Linked DNA regions of Homo sapiens: region 2 is linked to region 1. A link means that fine-mapping ties the variant in region 1 to the expression of a gene that starts in the linked region. Tissue or cell type: ileum. Region 1 holds a variant in brackets; the other region holds the start of a gene. All regions are shown on one strand. Distances are from middle to middle.

What was found. PIP is the estimated chance that this variant, and not a neighbour inherited with it, causes the effect.
Region 2: IRF6 starts here. The variant in region 1 is fine-mapped to the expression of IRF6 in ileum (CEDAR, PIP 0.95).

The regions. Positions count from the first base shown.
Region 1 is chr1:209,530,932-209,539,039 of GRCh38, forward strand. LOC105372898 (a long non-coding RNA gene) reads right to left here. Exons shown (of 7, transcript XR_922535.3): 4 at 316-443. Among named protein-coding and RNA genes, the nearest start is that of CAMK1G, 49 kb to the right of the region's middle. The variant G/A (reference allele first, on the strand shown) is at 4,332.
Region 2 is chr1:209,801,919-209,810,005 of GRCh38, forward strand. It overlaps IRF6 (interferon regulatory factor 6), which reads right to left and starts at 4,224. Exons shown (of 9, transcript NM_006147.4): 1 at 4,029-4,224; 2 at 54-125. RefSeq lists a silencer at 4,146-4,489.

The DNA.
Region 1 (8,108 bases):
ATGTGAATCAATTCATTTTGTTTCAACATACATTTGTTGACATCAAACATGTGCCAGACCCTGTACAAAGAGGACACAAAATGAGTAAGACATGGACTGTCCTTAAGGAACTCATGTTCTCACTGCACCAAGGGTGGAGGTTGTGAATAAGGCAAAGGAACACAGCTCCCCGCCCCGTTCACCCTGTACACAGCCCTGTACACCCTGTTCCCGGGAACAGCAGAGGTAGGAAAGTCACAAATTGTACATCCACCCCAATCTTGCAACAAGAGTGTATTAAAAGCCATTTTTCAAGGCTGAGTAAGAGTTTGTGACCTGATAGACGATGGCTGGCAAACTCATTTCATCATAAATATCACAGCAGATAATATACTTCAATACAAGTGATGCATCTGCCTATGCCAGGATCCTCAGAGTGAGTAATGCTCCTCCAATATGGGCTTCTGAAAGATAAACAAATTATGGGCTGTAATTACCTGACATTTGAGTTTCCTTTTTATGAGATTTTCTTCACTCTAATCACACTCAGAGTGGGAGGATGGAAGATACAATTGGGGCTTAAAGAAGGGAAGAAGAGGGGTCTGCTCTCTCAGCAGAGAGGCGGATGCCAGATAAACAGCTCCTAAAGAAGGTGCTGGTGCTTCTGTCCCTCTGGAATGAGAGGAAAGGCTCAGCAAGTAGGAAGATGTGCAGAAAGTGGAGAAATGAGAAAGGAGAGAGAGTGGTGATTTCTCAAGTGTGTGCATTTTTAGACGATGCCTGTGACAGAAAAGAAATTCTCTTCTCTGACGCATACATATCACATAAAGACATAATGCATGCTATGCAGACAGAATTCTACATCTTCAAACTCTCCCCGCTGCAGAGCTCAGGCGGAGATTCACACACTCTCTAGCCCACTGTGGACCTTGAATTTGACCCTTCCTCCTTTCTGAAGGCAGCATTTCTCATCTCCCCTTCAAAGGTTTGCCTTAAACTTCACTTTTACAAATCCTTTACCTCCTGATAGGCTCCTGTCTGCCAACATCGATTGTTCCTCCAAAATGTTTCCTCTATGGGCCTGTTGTTAATATTTGTACTTGAAAATTAAACCTCTCCTTACACAGGGGACCAGACTCTATTGAGTCTGTGGCTTCTTCTGAAGGGTCAGAGAAATATTTCAAGATGGGAAGGAAGTGTGCCATAAAAAATAATAAATCAACAAATGAGAGGGTCACAGTGTAATGTAGTAATCTCTAAATTGGACGTCAGGAAATCTGGGTTTAATTAGAATCTTCACTGTTTCTTATGAAAGTGATGTTTCTTTGCTTCAAGTCAATTTTCTCCTCACTTAAAATGGGAATCACTTATTTGGTAGGTTGCTTTAAGGATCCAACGTCATAATATCCATAAAATTCCATGTCACCTTCTGGGTTCCATAAATATTTATTTCATCCCAGCCTCCTAAGTCTGAATAATAAAGGACTATAAATGTGCACAGCATTCTTTGTTGTACTTTTGAAGGTCTTTTCACACTAACAACATTCTCCAGAGGCAGGAAAGACTAAAGCAGTTGCCTTTTTTTTAATTGATGAAGCCATTGAAAGAATTCAGGGAGGTTAAGAGACTTGCCCAGAGCTATGTGGAGACTGAAAACCCAGATTCTTGAACCTTTCTGTGGTCCTCAAAGACAGCATACTTACCTGGGAGGGTCAGGTCAAAAGGGGGTCCCTTTTATGAACTATTTAAAAACTCCTGGCATTTCTGAGCAGAGAAGCAGCCCATGTGGCAACTGAGGTGTGAATCCAGTGGATATGAACTTTGCCTCAAAGAAAATGAGCCAGCTGACACCTGATGCCAGAAATGCAATGGGTGAGATCAATGGTTTGAATCTGAAAAAAGGCAGTGGGGGGGGTGGGGTGTGTGGGGGGCGTGCTATGCATAGGGAGAAGAAGTATGCATGAACTTAGTGATAAATTCATTTGTTTCCTAGGGTACCACAAATTGGTGGCTTAAAAGAACATATTATCTCACTGTTCTGGGAGCTAGAGATCCAAAATCAAGATGTCAGCAGGGTCATGTTCTCTCTGAAGGTGCTAGGGAAGATTCCTTCCTTGACTCTTTGTAGTTTTGGGTTATTGCCAGCAATTCATGGTGTTCCTTGGCTTGTAGACACATTGCTTCAGTCTCTTGTTTCCGTAGTCACACAGTGATCTGCCAGGGTGTGTCTGTTTTTGTGTCTCTTCTCCTCTCCTTATGAGGATACCATCATATTGGATTCATGGTGCACCTGTACCAGAATGACCTCATCTTAACTGAGATGGCCATTAATTAAATAACCAATTGAATAATTAAATAACCAATTAAATAGGTCATTTGCAATGACCCAATTTCCAAATAGAACCACATTCTGAGGCTCCAGGTAGGACACAAATTTTGGGGGAACACTATTCAACCCAGCACAATAAGAAAATGAGAGCCAAGCTGAGGAGGAAGAATGAAAACCTGAGAAAGAAAACTAGGTGAAGAGGGAGACTATGAGACAGAAGACAGACAAAGTAGAGAGTGAGACAGAGACCAGAGGAGACAGAAGTGGAAAGACAGAGTGAAAAGATGAGAAAGGAAGAGAAAGAGAAGGATGCTAGTGAAGCACAGATACACAGACCCCTGCACACACCATGTGGGAGACACACAACAACTTGGTGTTTAAAGAATTTCCCCCAAATATGCACCTTCTCTCCCACTAGATGCCCACTGGGCAGCCCTAAAGCTGTTACTGTAGAAACTGAAGTAGACATCCTCTTTGGGGTTAATAGATGGCCCCAGTAAGAGAGACCAGTTAGTCCGTTGGCCCTCACATTCCTACTTCCTCCCATGACTCTGGCTCCAGGGGCTTCCAGTTTTCAACGTTAGAACCTCCGTGATGGTTTTTCAAAAAAAAGTCTTTTTTTCAAAAGGCCAATTTTCAGGTGGTGTTATGTTTATTTACCTCCTATAGAGCAGAAAATGGGCCACTCAGGAGATGCGATGATGACACTTCCCCCTTGAGAAGCAGCTGTTCCTAGCTTCTGGCAAGCTGCTTAGGGTCAGACTGTCCCCATTTTTCATCCAACCAGATGTCATCCAGCGTTATTCTACAGATTCCATGTCCTGGTCTTTTCCAACTCACTGGAGTTTTCCAAAGATCTCCAAAGAGGTGCTAGCCACTTTAGTATCAGCCAAAACTGACACCAGGAAGGAGGAATCATAAATTAGCAGTAGGAAGGAGGCCTTGGGGCTGGCAGAACACCAGTGTGCAGTGTGTGTGTGTGTGTGTGTGTGTGTGTGTAAGGGGGAGGTTTTCATGGAGAAATAGGTGGAGGTAGAAAGATATCCATCAATATAGACCAAGACCAAGCCATTTCCAAGTTACGGGGCTCTAGAACCCTCTTTGTCATTGGAAAAATCACGCATTCACTCAGAACAGAAAGTCACATAGGACAGCCAGAATTTATAAGCTAAGATGTGCTAAGTCTCCCCTTGCTTTATTTTCTTTTGCCATATTGAAAATTTAGTGAGTTTGGCTTTAGGATAATAGTCCCCACTCCTTCCCTATCATAGAAACCACCATTTAAAAAGAGAAAGCCACAAGCTTGCAGGTCTCCTAAGGGAAATTTCCCATGCCAGCCTGACCTGGCCAGTAGTGTGACGGGGGAGATGTGGGTGAAAGGACAGAGGTGGGCAGACACCACCATAGCATCGTGCTCAGCCGCTGTGCCATCCCTTCGGAGCAGTGAGAGGAAGAGCCCTCTACTGGCAGGAGCATCTTCTGGGCTTCTGGGCTCCCCAGTCCTCTCACCTCCCACAGCAGGAAAGGCAGTGAGGTGCGCAAGCCCATCTCCAGGGACAGCCACAGAAAGAGCAGTGAGTTAGGAGACATTTATCTCACATGGCCACACAATGGAGCATATGCCTTAATTGTCATAGCAGCTGTTATTCATTCGTTGTTTCTCTTATTTACTCATTCATAGTTTTTTTTTTTTTTGTCACCACGGTTACAGTGGTCTATGTTAAGTACTGAAGGTATCAAGATGAAAAAAAGCTCAGTTCCTAATTTTAATTCAAAGCAAGAGCAAAGCAAGAAAAAGGAAGTGTAGGGGCTGAGTGCTCAGGGTCACAAACTATAAAGGAATGGATTCTTTCACCTGAAGGCAGGCTTTCCCATCGCCCCCACAGGGCTGCAGGTGTTTGGGGCCTCTTCTAACTCTGGATCTCTCCTCTGCCAGGTGTCTAGCACCTCCCTGATGACCTGATGACTTAAGACTCCCTTAGATCATTCTCACAATCAACTATGGCACCCTAACCCGTGGGCA[G/A]AATAAAAACCTCAGGTCAAGGTGGTAAAAGAATTCTGGAAAGGACTGGAGATGTGGAAGTTTGCAGAGGGAGGTGGTTATTACTGACCTGCCTCCCCTCCTCAGGGTTCTAGGTTAAAAGAGAAGGCCAGACAGCCCAAGGGTATGAAATACAGTGAAATAAACAAACCAAAACAGACACGAGTTTTAAGCAGAACTAAGTAAAATCTATGATTGCGCTATGTACCCATAGTTCTCTTGCTAGACAGAATATTACTTGACCTGAGAAATACCCAGCCTGTAAATTTTTTGTCTCTAATATATTCTTGTGGTGATGTCCTCTTTTAGCATCTGACCAGCAATATTCTTATTTGAAAGCTGCAGAGACTAACTGTGGGCTTGTCATTTGCCATCGGTTCCCCACCTTTCCCTTGCTCTGCTATGTCTTGCAGGGATGACGAGGCCCTCTTGCCAGCTGGACTCTGCCAATGTTTCTGCCAATGGTGCACTGGTGGCAGCCTGGGGAAAGACGGGGAGGGAGGTCAGGGTAGTTATTTCTTCCTTGCTTTGCCTCAGGCCATGCCTCTGACTACATTGCATCAGGTAAGCTTCATCTCCACTAGACAAGGCATGATTGAAGCTCACATTGGTTAGCTTCAGCCTCCTCCTCCCACTATGACTCCAGTCCTTTGTAATTAACAACATTCTGCAACTGTTCATCTTTAGGTTTCTTCACCATTGTTTGGCTTTTCAGCTTCCCCATCATCCACCAATCCAATTCCTGATATCCAATTCTCTCCATTGAAAAACCTAGAGGGGCTTATGTTTTCCTAAGGGAAACTTAATACATTTCTGACTTGTTTAGTAGCAAAGTAATTAACTAGAAGGATGTTGGGTCATTTACAGAATTGCCAGGAGGCAGAGGGGCTATGCAGCCAGACACAGAGCAAAGTTCATTCCACGGAAACGACAGCAAGGACTCCTCCGCAGCCACTGCTGGACTCCAGAATGTGATGACCACCATGAGAACTCCACCAGCTGTGATGCTGAGCCTACCTCTGCTGCCCTTGGACACTCACTCCCAAATAAAGTTCAGATTGCTCTCTCTGATTATCTAACTTGTTAAGTCCACATCATTTTCCCCACCCTAGCTTCAGAAGACTGGAAAATTGAGTTTCTGATATTTGTTAACAGAGTCCAGATCCACATTTCAGTGAGACTTGCAGGGTCAAGAATTCTCCAAATATCAGAAGGAGATCAGATGCAGAAGAGCCAAGAGAAATAAATAAATATTTGTCCCAGGAATAAGACCAGGAGTTAGAGGCTGAGTTTCAGCCCTAGGGTCAGCATGTGAAGAAGAGAATCTCTCTAAGATCACTATGTTAAAGGCAACAGAAAGACTAGAACTCTGGGTGGGAGCTTTTGCCCTATGAGTATAATCACAGGCCTTCTCAGTACCCTTCAAATTGATAATGGGCAACCAGTATTTACAACTATAGGATAGCACAGCTTCCTACCCAGGACTGAATGTCTACCTCACTAAGAGTACTTACCAGATTTGGGGATCAGTCCTGACCCTAGCCAGAGAGAACTTAAGGAATCTCTGGCTTCTGAATCCACTCTGAGGATCCACATTGATTCCTAAGACATTTCTTATTTCTAGGAACTAGGAACTAGGTTCCTACCTTGTACCTCTGACCCAGCTCCGGGGTCTTGCCCTTCTTCCTGGAACCCTGCTGATTCTTAAGAACAAAGGTATTAATTAACATCCCCATTCAATCCCTCTGAAGTGTGGGTCTTGCCTCAGCCCAGCAGTTTTTGTGGTGAGGTCCTCTTTGTCTACCTCCAGATTTGATCTTCCTGTAGTCGCCCCTGCCTGAGCAACAGCCAGCCTGAAATTCCTCCTGTTACCTGCTCTTAGAGGCAGCTTGACATAATAGCAAAAGGATGGATTTCCTTTACATCCTGGAAAGTCAGTCAGACCTGGGTTTTAATCCCAGCTCTAACACTTACTGCTTGTATGAGCTTGGTGGGCTTCTGTACTTACTGTTTCTCTTGTGGTTCTCAAACCTTAGTATGTAAGTGTCTAAGTATCTGCTGTCCTGTTGTGTTTGTTGAAAAGGCAGATTCCTAGTTTCCTTCTCTTGGAGATTCCATTCCTTAGGTCCAAGGTGATTGAGATGCAGGTGGTTTACAGACCACACTTTGAGAATCACTGCCCCACCAGGTTTCCAAGTCCTGTTCATTGTCAATGTGGTTGTCATTCATTCAGTCAGCACTTCCCAGGGTTCAGGTGGGCAGGGGATGTGAGTAAGTACAACCACATCCTCTTATGTTCCAGCTGGAGGTTCCACTTCACCCAGACCTCCTGTATTAGAATCTTGGGATAAAAATGGAGCTGACGTATGCAATTCACCAAAGTTCCACATGTATCTGTTATACAAACCTCTGGTTCAAAAGCCCTGTATTACTGCTTCAGTACCAGACTTGACTCCAGTCCCCTTCCTGCCTTAATTTCCCACCTCCCCATCCTGTGTTCCACTCATACCCTTAGCTTCCCTGCAGCCTTACTTAAGAATAGGGCATTTGCTCTTCATAGATGCCATTTCAATGAGAGTTCCCTCTCAAGAAAGCTAAGTCTTTTTTTATTCTCCAAGATTTTATCTGTATCCATTTGGCAGGAGAGTAGATTCTATTATGATCATTACCCATATGGACAAGCAGCCAAGATTTAATATCTGTTGGTCAATAATAGCTTTCATAACTAATAGCTCTTGATGACCATCTAGAGGGGAGTGTGACCTTCTTATCCTCCTGGTCCCCTTTGCTGGCACTCACATATCCTCCAAAAACTGGGGACCTTGATGCCCACATACATAAGGACCCCCCTTCTCCCGAGGGAGCACACAGCACTTATAACCAGAGTGGGGAAATGGAAGACTGACCTCTCCATCCTCAAAGCCCAACCCATGTTTCACCTCCTCCATGAAGCCGTTCCTGATTCCAGTGCCCTGTGCTACTTTCCCTTCTCAGATTTTCTACCACATGCCATATTACACAGCTTAGCACTGGACTGTGTCCTACTTTGGAATGCTGTTTTTTATTTTTATTTTTTGCTTGTACTTCTTGCTTATCTAGCAATATTGCAGACTCTCTTAGAACTAAATCTTGATTTTAGACTTTCCTTGAAGAATCATGGAGGTGAAAAGAGAAACAGATCAAGGATCTGCTCAAGGATGTCACATTGGAGTGGGAGAGGGGGCTGAGGACATTGACCTGCCTGTGGAGGCAGAGTCTTCAGGCATCTCCCTCCAGGGTGAAGCTGAGGTACAGTATTAAAGGCTGTCATCACCTCCAACATGACTCAGGTCACAGTTGCTGGAGGAAGACCCACTGGTAGGAGAAAGGAAGTGCAAAGGACAGAGCACAAAGAATCCAGGTAGCTGTTGGTAAATACCAACAAGCAGTCACAATCCAAGGAATGTCCACTATCAGCTAGATGCAAAGTAATGGACTAGGGCATAATCCACCAGTTTTGTGGATCCAGGAAGAGGCAGAGTAGGGGTCCCAAGGCACCAGAATGGGATTTTCATTAGGTAACCAGCATTAGAGAGACTGAGCTCATGGACAGGAAAATCATCAAAATTACAGAGTGGAGCCTTCGAGACAGACACAAAAGAACTGTCTCGGAGGCTGACTCTGCTCAAATCCTCAGCAGCTTCTCTGGTCCTCCTGCTCCACCTCATCACCCCAGGGGATTTCTCCAGGCTTGAGAATTGACTCCCTCTCTCTCCTGTG
Region 2 (8,087 bases), 270 kb after region 1:
ATGAGGGAGAAGTAGATAAGGGGTAGATCCTGGACTCCAGAGTCCTCACTTACATGGAAGAGCAGGCAGTGTGTCCACAGGGATCTGAAGAGTCGGCTTGTCTTTCCCTTGACCGCTCAAAGATTCTGTATGGAGAAAAGGAGGGGTCTCAGCTGGCTATCCATACAACAATCCAGTGTCTGGGAGAAGGCTTGGGAACACTGGCGACAAAGGCTGAGAACACGTCTCCACTACTGAGTCTGGTAAAGCTCAGAAGCCCTAGAATAACCAAATACTAAAGTACTAAGAGTACTTAGAGTACTAAAAGCAGTCATGAGACAAGCTTTGCATGGCTAGGACAGCCTCCTCCCTTGGGTCTGTTTATCTCCCAGTGAAGGCTGGAGTGAACCAATTGGTTGCAGGAGCCAGCATGGGTAAAGTCTGCAATTGATTCTTGTAAAAATACATGGGCATAGCAGATAACATTCAAGAGCAGCTGGCACTCACAGCAGAAAACAAAAGCCTTCCCAGATTGGGTGACTGATAAAAAAACAGTCACTGGAGAATTGTTTGTCTGAGATGTTGTGTTTGGATTTTTTGGTGTTCTTATTTTGTTTTTACTTAAGATGAGAATGAGATGCCTGGAAAAAGAACACTCATTCAACAAATATTTGTTCATCAGCTACTGTGTGCCAAGCACGGTGTTAGTTACTAAACACTGACGCTCCATGTTCCTTCTTGAGAAACTCCACACTGGAACTTCTCAAGCCCCACAATGGCCTGAGAAGGAGGGGAAGATAAATAGGTCACCTTCATACCCAGAAAGATCCCTACCTGGACCACAGTTCTGAAACCAAACAACCTTACAGCAAAGCAGCTAAATATGGGAATAAACTGTGCCAGGTGGGAAAGAAAAGAGGTTAAAAGGGTCAGCTGAAGGCTCCTACTCAGAAGAGCTTAGCTGACGGGGTGGCCCATAACACCACTTCTCTCCCCAGCCAGACTCCCAACAAATGTGAAAAACCCAAACCCAACTCAGCGTCTGGCACTTTAAGAGCAAGGCAAGACCTGCTCTCACCTGAGCTTTCTGACCCAATTACCAAGTCCTGCAACTGAAACCTTCCCCCTGGGAGCATAGTGGGTAGGTCAGGTTGGCACGCAGTGTTCAAGTACCCCCATGTAGTTGGCCTTGAATTACGGTGTTTTGTAGGGCAGCATGTGAAACCATCAAACCATGGAGTGCATTATAAGCCTTATAAGGAGGAGGGGATGCATATTCTCTCAACGGCTAGTTCTACCTTCTGCTCCCCAGTCCTATCACTACTGAAAGGGGGATGGAGCAAGAGAAGGAAAAAGAGGATAGGGAAATAGGCACCAAACCAGTCAATCTAGTAAAGAGCTTTTGAGAATTTCCATTGCAATACTGGTAAGTGCTGTGTTTGGGCCTGTCAGACATTAAAATCCAACTCTTGACTGATAGTGGACTGGAAGAAAAGTCCAAAAGGACTTATTGTAGTTGATCCAAATCCCACCATGCAAAAATTAAGGCAATCAGGCCAAGACCAGGAGCTGCACCTGATGATGGGAAAGGAGAAGCAGCCACCCACAGAAATCAGTGATTAAGATCTAGAGCCCTGGGTTCTCAGTGTTCTCCTAAGATGGGACTACACAAGAGCAGCCTTGCCTCAGCCCCATGGAAGGAGCCCCAGCCTGCCCTCCTCCAAGCCCATGCCCTGCCTCTCTCACTGTAAACCCTCTCCACCTTCTGAAAGTCAGCCAAGATCTCCCCCACTCACCACCCAGTAACTACAAGTCTAAAAACAGGCAGAGATGGAACAATTGAAAACCCAAATGGCCAAGACAGAAACATTCATTACGTCACAACCACAGGCTGCAATATTAAGTAGCCATTAACAACAGGTGTCAGAATTTGTATTATACTCAAGGAAATGTTTACAATATGAAGTTGTGGGGGCAGGGGGAAACAGCATACAACTTGACTGTGTAGCACTATCTCCATCTTGTAACACAGCATATACTTGCATACATGTGCACATACACACAGAACTGAAAAAAGGAAATAAATACAACAATGCAACAAAATATTTGTAATGGTTATCTAGTGATGCAACTATGGGTGCTTTTTACATTCTCCCATATACATTATATATGATTCATATTTTCCTACAATGATATGTTTCAATTTATAATTTAAAAAACTACAAGTAATTTTTTCTTAACCTCAGGACAATAAGACATTTCTTATGAAGGATGGTAACAACAATCCTTTGTATCTGTGTAGGCTTTACAATTTTTACATGAACCTTTACCTAACATGTCTGATTTCATCCTCATAAACCTGAATGTGATATTACTATCCCCATTTTACATCTGGGCTGAGGTGCTTTATTTCCTAAGTCACAGTGTTCTGTACCAAACCCTGCCACTGCACCTTGTCTTCCATGTCCCTCTCATCTTCTGCGCACCAAGAAAGTAAACTAAAAACATCAACAAAGATCCCAGCAGCATAGAGGGCCAATAAAGTGATTGAGGTGGAGACTGCATAACATCCACTCTCAAACACACCTAAATCAGAGTTCTCTTTCTAAACACTCTTGCCACCCAAATCCCAACGCCTGAAGAACCACCTTAGCCTAGTTGAACTCATCTTGGTATCTCTAGCTGCCATCACAGCAAAATGTAAGGCCTGTGTCTCTAACAGGTACTTAAACAGCCAAAGGACAATGATGCTAACCTATCTATTCCCCTCACAGTGAGCATAGAGGAGGGACACTTTCAGCCTCCTCCGAGCATAACTGTCCTCTCCCATACCCCTATTCTAGGGAGCAGGTCCTCCATAAACACCCTCATTGCCACCTCCATAGCTCCTCCCCAGACTAGTTTCCAGGGGCACTGCCACACAAAAGCCGAGATTTGGCCGTCAGTGGTTTTGCTCAGGTTAAAACACACGCCATTTCTCGCAGACAATTCTTAGCAGTCCCAGCTCTTCCCTTTCTCCTGAAAGAAATGAAATGCCATCGTCTAAGTTCCGTTCCTCAGGCTTCCCTGTTTAGCCCTGCTTAGGGGTAAACTGCAGGCCTCTAGTCAAAATGCCCACACCCTTCCCTTCTGCTGGATGGAAGCTGGGGGATGGCGAATGGGAGTTACAAGGTATTGAGTGCCACTGTCATACATCATACACACGTCTCATCCTAAACCACACTCCTGGGTCAACACCAGCTTTCACCAATCCCACCCAAGCGCCTTCCTCTCTCTATCCATCTCTTTTCCCTGACTTCCACTCTTGACATCCACCAAGAGAACAGGTTGGAACAGGATGACCCCTTTACCACAAAGCAGGCTCCCTGTAAAGAGTGACACCTCAGGCCTCCTTTCCAAGTCAGGCCTGGGAGACTTTCCCCATTCTCCACACCACCCTCCAGCCCCTTCGGGCAAAGAGGGCCCACCCCCAGAGCAACCACACCCCAGCGCCACCCTCCCCAGCACCTAGCTCCGCTCCTTGGAAATCCAAGGTTGTCTCCCAGGCCCAGGGCGAAGGGCCTAACTGTGCCAAACAGACTCAGGGAGGGAAGACAAACCGCCAATGCTCCAAAGCTCCTGGCCACCCTCACTCCAGTTTCCCAAAACGCCCACTAGGATCAAGGACCTGCGGACCTGGGAAGTCCCCTCTCTGGGACACAGGGGCCAGCCGCAAGTTGGTAAGACTGAAGGGGGCGCGGTGCTTTAGCTCTACCGGATAGTGGGGTTGTTGACGGCCGAGAGCAGTGCCCTCCGCTTCGGCGGTGGGGGTAGGGAGAGTAGACACAAGTGTAGATTCGAGAGGGGCCTAGCGCTACAGAACTGAGGCCGCCCCAAAGCTATCTGGAAAAGGGCGACAGGCACCCAGCCCCAGTGGGTACCCACCCCAAACACACAGATGCCCCCAAGCAAGTTCTCTCACCCCCTACAAACTCCGGGGATGGGTCCTACCCCACCCACGGGGGAGCCTCTCCTCCCTCAAGCTGGTCCCCAGAAGTTGGCGTACCCACCTTTGCTCAATCTGTCCACCAGAAGCGGACGTCCCTCCGAACCAAGTCCGCAGCGAAGATCACCCGTCGCTACCACGCTCCTCGACGTCTTAGCCAAGGGGCGCCTGGCTCTACCCAAGTAGGGACTGCAGGTTCCTCTCCCCGTCCCGCACCAGCCCTTACCTGCCCAGCCCAGGTGCGCCGAGCTCACGTCAGCGCCTCGCCCCAGGACGCCGCAGCCTTCGCATCCGCCCGGCCACGCCTCCCAGGTGTGGCCACGCCCCCCGGCGTTCGGGATTGGCGAGTTGCAAGAAATATGACACTCCGCGTTTCTGGGCTGCCCGGCCCAGCGGCGTCCGTCCAGCGTCCCACCCTACTCCTCCGCTTCTAACTCCGGCTAAGAAAGTCCCAGATTCAGGCCTAGCCTTACGGCTCAGGGCTGGTGGTCCTGGGAACTGGAAGCGACTGGGAGTTCAGATCTAAGTCGAGAGGGTGCCTCCCTCCTTCACGGCCCATAATTACCCTGCAGTATGCAGACAGTTAAGCACAAATAAGGGTTTTGAGATTCTGGGTTGGCCCTACTACTCGTGGGCCTGTGTAAGTGGAGTTGCACATGAAGAAGAGAACCAGGACACTTGGTCCTGTCTGGGAGAAGCCATAGGCTTTCAGGACTAGAATTCTACCTTTACTCTGCCTCTTACCCGTGTGACCCTGGGTAAGTTACTTAGCTTCTTGGCTTCTTGGTTTCAGTTTCCTCATCTCTTCAATGAGAATAATAATTCCTTCCTTCTTTTTTGTTGTTGTTTGCTTTTTTCTCTTTCTTTTTTCTTCCTTTTTTTTTTTTTTTTTTTTTGGAGATGGGGTCTTGCTATTAAGTTACACAGTCTGGTCTGCAACACCTGGGCTCAAGGGATCCGCCTCAGCCTCGCAAAGTGCTGGGATTACAGGCACTGGCACCCAGTTCAATTCCTTTTTTTTTTTTTTTTTTTTTTTTTAGGCAGGGTCTGGCTCTGTCATCCAGGCTAGAATGCAGTGGCACAATCATAGCTCAACCTCCTGGGCTCAAGCAATTATCCCACCTCACCCTCCCAAGTAACTGGAAATATAGGCATGGGTCACCATGCCCGGCTAATTTTTTTTTTTTTTTTTTAGAGACAGGGTCTGACTATGTTGCCCAGACTGGAGTTCCTGCTTCCTCTGATCACTATCGTGTAATGAGTAAAAGCATAGCCTCTGGAGCCAACTATTGGGGTTTAGACCCCAACTCCATCAGTTACTACAGACTTGGGAAAGTTTCTTAAGCTTTTTAGGCCCTGGTGTCTTATCTGTAGAAAGAGGTTAGTAATAGTACCTACCTCAGGGGTATTGTGGGAATTCAATAACTACATGTAAACTGCTTGCAACAATATTTAGCACTTATCAAGTGCTTTATATGTACTTGCAATTATTATTGGCATAAAGATTAAAAATACCATATAGACAGTGCGTCAGAGAACAAGAAGGCATTCCTTGTTATTACCTGAAATTCAAGTCCTGCATGTACCCTAACAGGTGCTTGATGAGATTGCCCTCACCTTCCTCATCTATCTAGAGGACCGGTTTGCAGGAGGCTGTGCAACAGTAAATGAGACTTTTAAAAATCCCCCACCCTCAACCACTGAGCTGTCGTAGGTGAAATGGGGCATGCGCAGGTCACTTAGGTTTTGGTGTTTAAAGTAATGAGTGAGAAACTGTGGAGGAGTGGTACAATGAGTTGAACTGTCACCCACATACAAAAAAATTTGTATTTGTATTTTGAAGTCCTGACCACCCCCACTGCAACCACAGCCAGATGTCAGAATATGACCTTATTGGGAGACAGGATCCTTATGGAGGTAATCAAGTTAAAACGTGGTTATTAGGGTGAGCCTGAATCCAATATGAATGGTGTCCTTATAAAAGGAGGAGATTTGGACACAGAGGCAGATACCCACAGAGGGAAGGTGATATGAAGAGACATAAAGAGAAGACAGCTAGCTGCAACCCAAGGAGAGATACCTGGAATAGAGCTCTTTTTTTTTTTTTTTTTTTCACATCCCTCAGACCCTTGATTTTAGACTTTTAAACTCCAGAACTATGAAACAAAAAATTTCTGTTGTTCAAGCCACCCACTCTGAGGTACATTGTTATGGTAGCCCTAGCATACTCATACAAGTGTGTTGAAGAGCCCCAGATTGATAATAATGTAGGCATGATTCCAAGTCCCAATTTAGCTTTGGAATGTAGCCAGCAAAGGCCTGGGAAGGCAGCAAGGCCCCAAGGCCTGACTCAGCCAGCCTCTGTCTCAACCACTGCCCTGTGGCCACTCTTCCCTTCACTGGGGGAAGGGCAAGCTCATCAGCACAGCTAGCTGTTTACTGCTGATGAGCTCACTAGACAAACAGCATCTTCCATCTGGCCCAGGGCTGGGCTCTGGGGACCAAACAAGCTCCACTGCAGGTGTATGAGAGGGATGAGGGGTAAGGCCATTGGGAGAGTGTCATTTGAGGGGAGTCAAAACCCCAGTGGCATACAAGTATGAGCCCACACACAGGCACTCACTTTTGCACCAGCTGAAATTCCCATGACTAAGGGGATGTCTTAAGGACCTTCTTTAGAAGACATATATTTTGGAATCAGAAAACTCAAGCTGGGAGGGTTCTTCTGGACTATCTAGATCAAGACTAAAACTGACTTAGCCAGTTTTTACCCACACAGTATTTTAAATATCAGGAGGTATCACATAAACATCAAAATTCTCAGCATCTCTTAAAGAGTCAAGTGCCCTGGATGCTCTACCAGCAGTTCTACCTGGCAACAGTTGCCCATTTAGAGGGAGTCTACACGTTACAGCCAATACAAACTCACTCTATTGAGCTCACTAATTTACTTTAATTGCCTGACCCTGTAGGCATCTGATTGCAACTTCTAGTCTAAATTCTCCCTTTTCATAGATGAGAAAACTGCGGCCCAGCGAGGTCAAGTGATTTACTCAAGGTCACATGGCATATTAGCCACAAACCAAGACTAGAACACAAACCCGGGGCTCTATCCACTTGGACCCCTGCTCAGCTCCGCAGCCAAAGTCTATTCTGACCTGTTCTGCACTGGCTGTTAACGATTTAAAAAAAAAAATCGCCAGGTGCAATCGCTCACACCTGTAATCCCAGCACTTTGAGAGGCTGAGGCGGGCAGATCACCTGAGGTCAGGAGCTGGAGACCGGACCGACCAATATGGTCAACTCTACTAAAAATACAAAATTAGCCAGGCTTGGTGGCGCATGCCTGTAATCCCAGCTACTCGGGAGGCTGAGGCAGGAGAATTGCCTGAACCCAGGAAGTGGAGGTTGCGGTGAGCCGAGATTGCACAATTGCACTCCAGCCTGAGCAACAAGAGGGAAACTCCATCTCAAAAAAAAAAAAAAAAAAAATCACCCATGGATCTAGGTACTGTTGATATTGTTGATATTGCCATAAACAAAACCAAGTCCCTACTCTCATGTCACTCAACTGAAGAATTAATGAAAGGGGGTAAAGCAGGTGGAATTAAGGTAGAGATCAGGAGGAACTCCCCGGCTCTGCAGGCAACAAGCCCTGACAATAGGCCACCCTGATGTCTTCTATTCTGATACACGCCTCATCTGCTTGATCTGGGGAATAAGAACATCTTGTGAGTCTTTCCACAAGCTCTTGAGGAATCAGTTCTTCTGTATTCTCAAAAGAGCCTCTTCAGGATTCAGTCATTCCCAACATGCCCTGGGCCTGCAATGCTCCCATCATTTTGCCCTCCATTGATAATCAGGTGCGGCATTGCTGACTCACTAGTGAGTCTGAGTTTCAGGTAGTGGGACGTACATTTCAGCACGGGGGCCCTGATTCACAGCCACAGGGAATGAGGGAATTCCCCTCTCCTGTTCCCAGTCAGCTCTCATTTGGTAGGAAAGAGTTTCTTTTTCCACCCAGAGACTTTAAACTCTACAATATCAGACATGTGACAATAAAACCATGAACCCAAATCCCACTCTCTTCTTGGCAGAGCAGAAAGCGTGGCAACTGGGACTC